Regions from separate parts of the Homo sapiens genome. Here region 2 is linked to region 1. The links come from fine-mapping of genetic effects on gene expression. A gene starts in region 1. The other region holds a variant in brackets. All regions are shown on one strand. Distances are between the middles of the regions. Region 1 holds the start of DZIP1 (DAZ interacting zinc finger protein 1). Region 2 overlaps DNAJC3 (DnaJ heat shock protein family (Hsp40) member C3).

Evidence for each region. PIP is the estimated chance that this variant, and not a neighbour inherited with it, causes the effect. A credible set is the group of variants that fine-mapping cannot tell apart.
Region 2: its variant is the best candidate, but not a certain one, in a credible set for the expression of DZIP1 in lymphoblastoid cells (GTEx, PIP 0.71).

Annotation. Positions count from the first base shown.
Region 1 is chr13:95,643,375-95,646,263 of GRCh38, reverse strand. DZIP1 (DAZ interacting zinc finger protein 1) reads left to right here and starts at 1,558. Exons shown (of 23, transcript NM_198968.4): 1 at 1,558-1,887; 2 at 2,566-2,663. RefSeq lists an enhancer at 1,346-1,395 and silencers at 1,486-1,595, 1,686-1,775, 1,836-1,945.
Region 2 is chr13:95,707,894-95,710,807 of GRCh38, reverse strand. DNAJC3 (DnaJ heat shock protein family (Hsp40) member C3) reads right to left here. Exons shown (of 12, transcript NM_006260.5): 2 at 1,471-1,581. Among named protein-coding and RNA genes, the nearest start is that of DNAJC3, 32 kb to the right of the region's middle. The variant T/C (reference allele first, on the strand shown) is at 1,382.

The DNA of each region.
Region 1 (2,889 bases):
CATCATGGCTGCTAAGTCATGCCAAAGTCAATTGATTCTTCTTATTCCAATTCTACACCTGTAGGGTAATATACTGACAGTGGGGATGGGAAATACATGTAACTCAAATGGTATGTCAACAAATAATATTAATTAAGCAATCATCTCTCTCTCTCTCTCACACACACACACAGACAGCTACCGAGTTTGCAAAAACCGGATTTTGCAGAGCAATGGTCCTATCTATCTCATATTGTCTGAAATTCCTTTCTTTTTTTTTCTTTCTTTCTTTTTCTTTTCTTTTCTTTTTTCTTTTTTTTTTTTTTGAAACGGAGCCTCGCTCTCTCGCCCAGGCTGGAGTGCAGTGGCGCGATCTCGGCTCACTGCAAGCTCCGCCTCCCAGGTTCACGCCATTCTCCTGCCTCAGCCTCCCGAGTAGCTGGGACTACAGGTGCCCACCACCATGCCCGGCTAATTTTTTGTATTTTTAATAGAGACGGCGTTTCACCGTGTTAGCCATGATGGTCTCGATTTCCTGACCTCGTGATACACCCGCCTCGGACTCCCAAAGTGCTGGGATTACAGGCGTCAGCCACTGCGCTCGGCCTATTGTCTGAAATTTCTATCTAGAAATCTTTCCCCATAGTACTTAGAGGATTTTTATAGAGATCTTGAATTTTCTTTCAAAATAATTTTAAAATTAGACCAATTTAAAATCCCATCATGGTCATCTTGGCCTTATGGCTTCAAATAAAACTAAAGCAAGGAATTCAACATAAATACATATTTAGCTGTTGCTATGTTTGAAGCCTTGTGCTAAAGTATGGTACAAAGTTGATTCTGTCAGGGAGAAGCACAAGGAAAGGCACTTTTACAACGGCATGTTGGTCCAGTAAAAGTTCTGCAGCTACTCCTCTCTAATTTAAAAACATATATATATATATTATATATATATATATATATAGCTGCATTAGACACTTAGGTTTTGCAAAAGATGCCTTCATTTCTCATGATGGTATATACATACGTTCTGGATTACTTGTTACTTAAAAATACTGACTTTTGTCCCACGTGTTCCAATTTTAGGTTACATAAATGAGCACACTACTCCGGACCCACATCTCCTGTAATTCAGTGCCTAACTTTCTACCAACAAAGATCCGTGCCTTTCATCCTGAAGTGGGCATAACGGAAAGAGACGCAGAAACCTACGTGGGTTTAAATCCTAGAGGGCTTTGGTGAAAAGTCCCTAATCTCGGTTTTCCACGTCACTCAAATGCAGGGCCACATTAGATAGCCTTTTCAAGGTCCTTCGCATCTGCAGACTTCTGCGATTAAAACGCATCTCTTTTTGGAAGATAATTCACCTGAAGCTCCTCTGGGAAATTAGCTTGCTGAGGGCCAGACCAACAACCGGGTAGGAGCGAATCTGGTTTCTCTTTGAAAAGCCTTCCTAGGGTTAGCATCCAGGGCCAGCAACGGAGCGCGCCCCCGAACCACGTGTCTGCGCCAGCTGCCGGATTGGCTGAGCGCATTTTAGCGCTGCGGTCTAGACGCTCGCGGTCCCGCCCAGTTGCCAGAGGAGCCGGGACACCGAGGGAAGAGGCCGGAGGGAGATCGCGGAGGGGAGGGGGCGGGAGGGGGGTGGGGTATCCTGAGTCGTCCGTGGTCCGGAGTCTGGAAGGCCCTAGAGCGGCGCCAGTCGACCCGCCTCGCCACAACTTGCCCAGACCAGACACGTTTCATCCTGCGCCCTGCAAGAAGGAGCCGGCCTGCCTCTCTCCGCTTTGCTGCTCCTCGGCCTCCGCGGGCCCGGCCCGCGTCAGCAGCGACCCTGGGGTCTGGGTCCCCTGTGTCGCCCCCGCCCGCCTGCAGCGCCCGGCACCCGCCCAGGAGCGCGCAGCTGGGGTGAGCCGAGACCGGGGATGCGCCAGGCGCCCACAGGAGGTGGCTGACGGGGCATCCCGATACCCGCGAAGCCGGCCCTCCTGCCTCTCCAGGCTGCGAGCCGAGCCTCTGCAGATCCAGCTGGAGTAGCCGCCGCTGCCCCCACTGCCTGTTTGCCTTCCAAGGAAGGGCGCCGAGGTTCCCCTGGAACCCGCGTCTCTCGGCTTTTGTCTGCTGGTTCGGCTGCCCGGCGGTGCCATGCGCCTGGGACTTGAGGCGCCGCGCAAGGCTGGGGGCCCTGCCCGGGATGGGGGAGGGAGGGAACGGGAAAGCATGCCCCCTTCTTTCCTGTTCCGGCCATCTTGTGACCGAGATCCACGCAAGGGGAAAGGGGTGGTCAGCGGCACGACGCCCCACGATGGAGTGTGGCGGCCAACGGAGATGGGTACCTCGGGCCCGCAGGCCTCTGCGCCCAGATCTCAGCGGGGGCGCGCGGGCCACCCCCACGTTCAGCTCTGAAGCCCTTGGCCCAGATCATGGGTTAATCGTTCTAACAGGCCAGAGGCAGCAAAAATAGGAGGGATAAAGGGCCAGGAGCTGATGTTTCCTTAACTAAGCGCCTAAGTCATTCGATCGTTCTTCATTCACGTGTCCATTCAGCAAATTCTGAACGCCTTCTCCGTGCCTGTCCTCTGCTAGGTTCTAGGGACGTATACTTGAGCAAGAGAGACCACAGCTCTTGTTCCCGCTGATCCTGCAGCCCAGTGGATGGAGTCCAGAATCTACAGACCTGCCAGGTCGGTGTCTTGATGCTCTTAAACAGATGGAGGAAGCTAAGTCTTAGAGCTGACAATTTGTTCTAGATCAGGGAGCAAGTAAGTGACAGAATCAAACTTTGAAACTATTTATGTCTTTAGCACTTTTTATGCCTGGTTGCAGGGAATAAAGGCCAATTAACTTGGACATATGGTTTATTTGAAACCATATGAAGTGCGTGTTTTATTTCCTGGATGTTTTTGCATG
Region 2 (2,914 bases), 65 kb before region 1:
GGCTGAGGTGGGAGGATCACCTGAGCCCAGGAGGCAGAGGTTGCAGTGAGCCAAGATCACGTGACTGCACTCCAGCCTGGATGACAGAGCAAGATCCTGTCTCAAAAACAAAAACAAAAACAAAAACAAAACAAAACAAAACAAAACACCACCCTCGGTTGTTAACTACACACTCTCAACCATTCAAATCAAGGTAAAAATATATAAGTAAAGAACTCTGAGGAAAGTTCAAAAAGTCCCAGTACAAAAGTTTAGCAGTGACTCATAAGGAAATCCATGCCAGATGTGGTGGCTCATGCATACAATCTCAACACTCTAGGAGGCCAAGGCAGGAGGACTGCTTGAGCCCACGAGTTTCAGACCAGCCTGGACAACATAGTGAGACCCCATCTCTACAAAAATATAAAAAATAAAAGTTGTAAAAAGTAGTTGGATATAGTGGCACACACCTATAATCCCAGCTATTCAGGAGGCTGAGGCTGCAGTAAGCCATAATCACCATAATCACACCAATGCACTCCAGCCTGGGTGACAGAGCAAGGCTCTGTCTCAAAAAAGCAAAAAAAAAAAAAAAGAAAAGAAAAGGAGAGAAAATCCATTAAGCCTTCACTAAGAACCTATTTATTCTGGTCATCTCACTTCTTACAGTCCTAACAGATGAGCAGCTGCACGACAGTTGATTCTACAGACAGACATGAGTAAGAAATAAGAAGCAACAGTATAAATGAAGAGCAGCTGGGGTCTGACCAATACTGAAGAGGCAATGAACTGCAGCATCTCCCAAGGATATCAAGTGAACATATTGAAAACCCAAGTCATCAAGAAAATTAAACTGCATTCAGTAAAATCTGTTCAAAAAGTCAGAAGCTGGCCGGGCGCAGTGGCTCACGCCTGTAATCCCAGCACTTTGGGAGGCCGAGGCGGGCGGATCACGAGGTCAGGAGATGGAGACCATCCTGGCTAATATGGTGAAACCCCGTCTCTACTAAAAATACAAAAAATTAGCCGGGAGTGGTGGTGGGCGCGTGTAGTCCCAGCTACTCGGGAGGCTGAGGCAGGAGAATGGTATGAACCCGGGAGGCAGAGCTTTCAGTGAGCCAAGATCGTGCCACTGCACTCCAGCCTGGGCGACAGCGACAGAGCGAGACTCCGTCTCAAAAAAAAAAAAAAAAAAAAAAAGTCAGAAGCCAAATAATACACTGAGAAAAGCTGTTTGTCAGAAATATCTTGAGTTATCCTTGGTAGTAGCAGGCCTCACTAACCTTCAAACTTCTCTCATGTTAGATGCACATACATTTAAGTGTTATATATTTATTTTATCCATCTATTTCGCTCAGAATCCCACAAATATATTTAAATGTTTTATTTAAACATGAAATAA[T/C]GTTTATTTTAAATGTTATTTTTAAAAAAAGAGCTATTACTAGAATTCACTAAGACAGACACTGAGTGATTTGGTTCCATGATACAAACCTACGGCAGCATGAAACTGAGATAAAGCATCAGCTAGCTGTCCAGCTGCAAGTAATTTCTTGCCCAATTCAAGATGTTTCTCAACATCTGCATTTACTCCACATTCAGCACCTAAAAATAAAATTAAAAACAATCAGTTAACTTTCCACGAACTAAGATTTAATTCTAAAAAATATAATATTAAAAATAGTTATCTGTCTCAGTCATCTACTCAGATGAGAAAAGTCACAGAAGCTGAAAAATGATGTAAAGAACGTAACATAAAATACAAACCCTATTTCATTATATGGAGCACAAGACAAAAAATGTACCCATCTTGACCTAATCAGTCAAAAGAATGTAACCAGTCCAGAAAATAAAGGGAAGTTGTGTAATGCAGAAGTAGTAAAAATATTTTGAATAATAAAATGAAAATTGTTTGAAGGTAGAATCTCACCTTTAATGAACATCATAGAGACTGTTACAATATTTAAGTATTTATTAAGCACCTATAATGCACTAGGCACTATTTTAGGTATCTGCAATAAGTGAGCAACATTAAAAAACTCCTGCCCCTCATACCGTCCTGGCGCCTGATGTTATCGTGGGAGGAGACAGACATGATAAATAAGTAAATTATATAGTATGTTGGGTGAAAAGTACTGTGGAAAAAGTCAAGCCATGTGAAGAGGTAAGGAGTTCAGGGGACTTAGAGTAGCAAATAAGCGCGTAAAGGGCAGGCCTTCTTGAGAAACTGACATCTGAGCAAGACTTGAAAAAAATGAGGAACTCACCATGCAGACAGCTAGGAAAATAGCTTCCAGGAAGAGGGACCAGCAAGGGTCCTAAGTCGGGAGCATGCAGATATGTTCCAGAAACAGGAGAAAGGCCTGGATGGCTGCAGCAGAGCCAAGAGGAAGATAGTAGTATGAGGTCAAAGAAGTAGAGGACCTGTCTACAGCTTTGAATATTTACTTGTCTTAAAACAGGGAACTACTGTGGAATCAATAACATGATCTGATGGACTAGGCCAATTATCAATATGTTGCCTCTCCGCTCTGAATTCATCCTTCGGTACCTGCACTGCAATAAAGGCCTGGAGTTTGCAGGCATTTCCTCTTTACAGTGAGTACAATGTTATGCTTTGTCAGTACAGGGCACTGAAGCAACACTGCAGAAAGGACACTTCCTAGTTCTGCTTGGTGCATTTTACTGTCTTCTGGCTCCTGCTGCATGGTCTGTCATGGGGTGGACTTCCTGCTGCATGGTATGGATGAGGAGGACATCCAGGGGTACTTAGCCACAGCTTATGCCCAGGGGTCCAGTTCCTCAGTGATCTGGCAACCTCAGCCCACACACTCCAGATTTCACACCCACAGAAGCACCTGGACTCCCTTCGTAGACAGGCTAACCAGCCTTCGCTCACCTATACATGAAAGGATTGTTTCCTGCTTGCCCAATTACT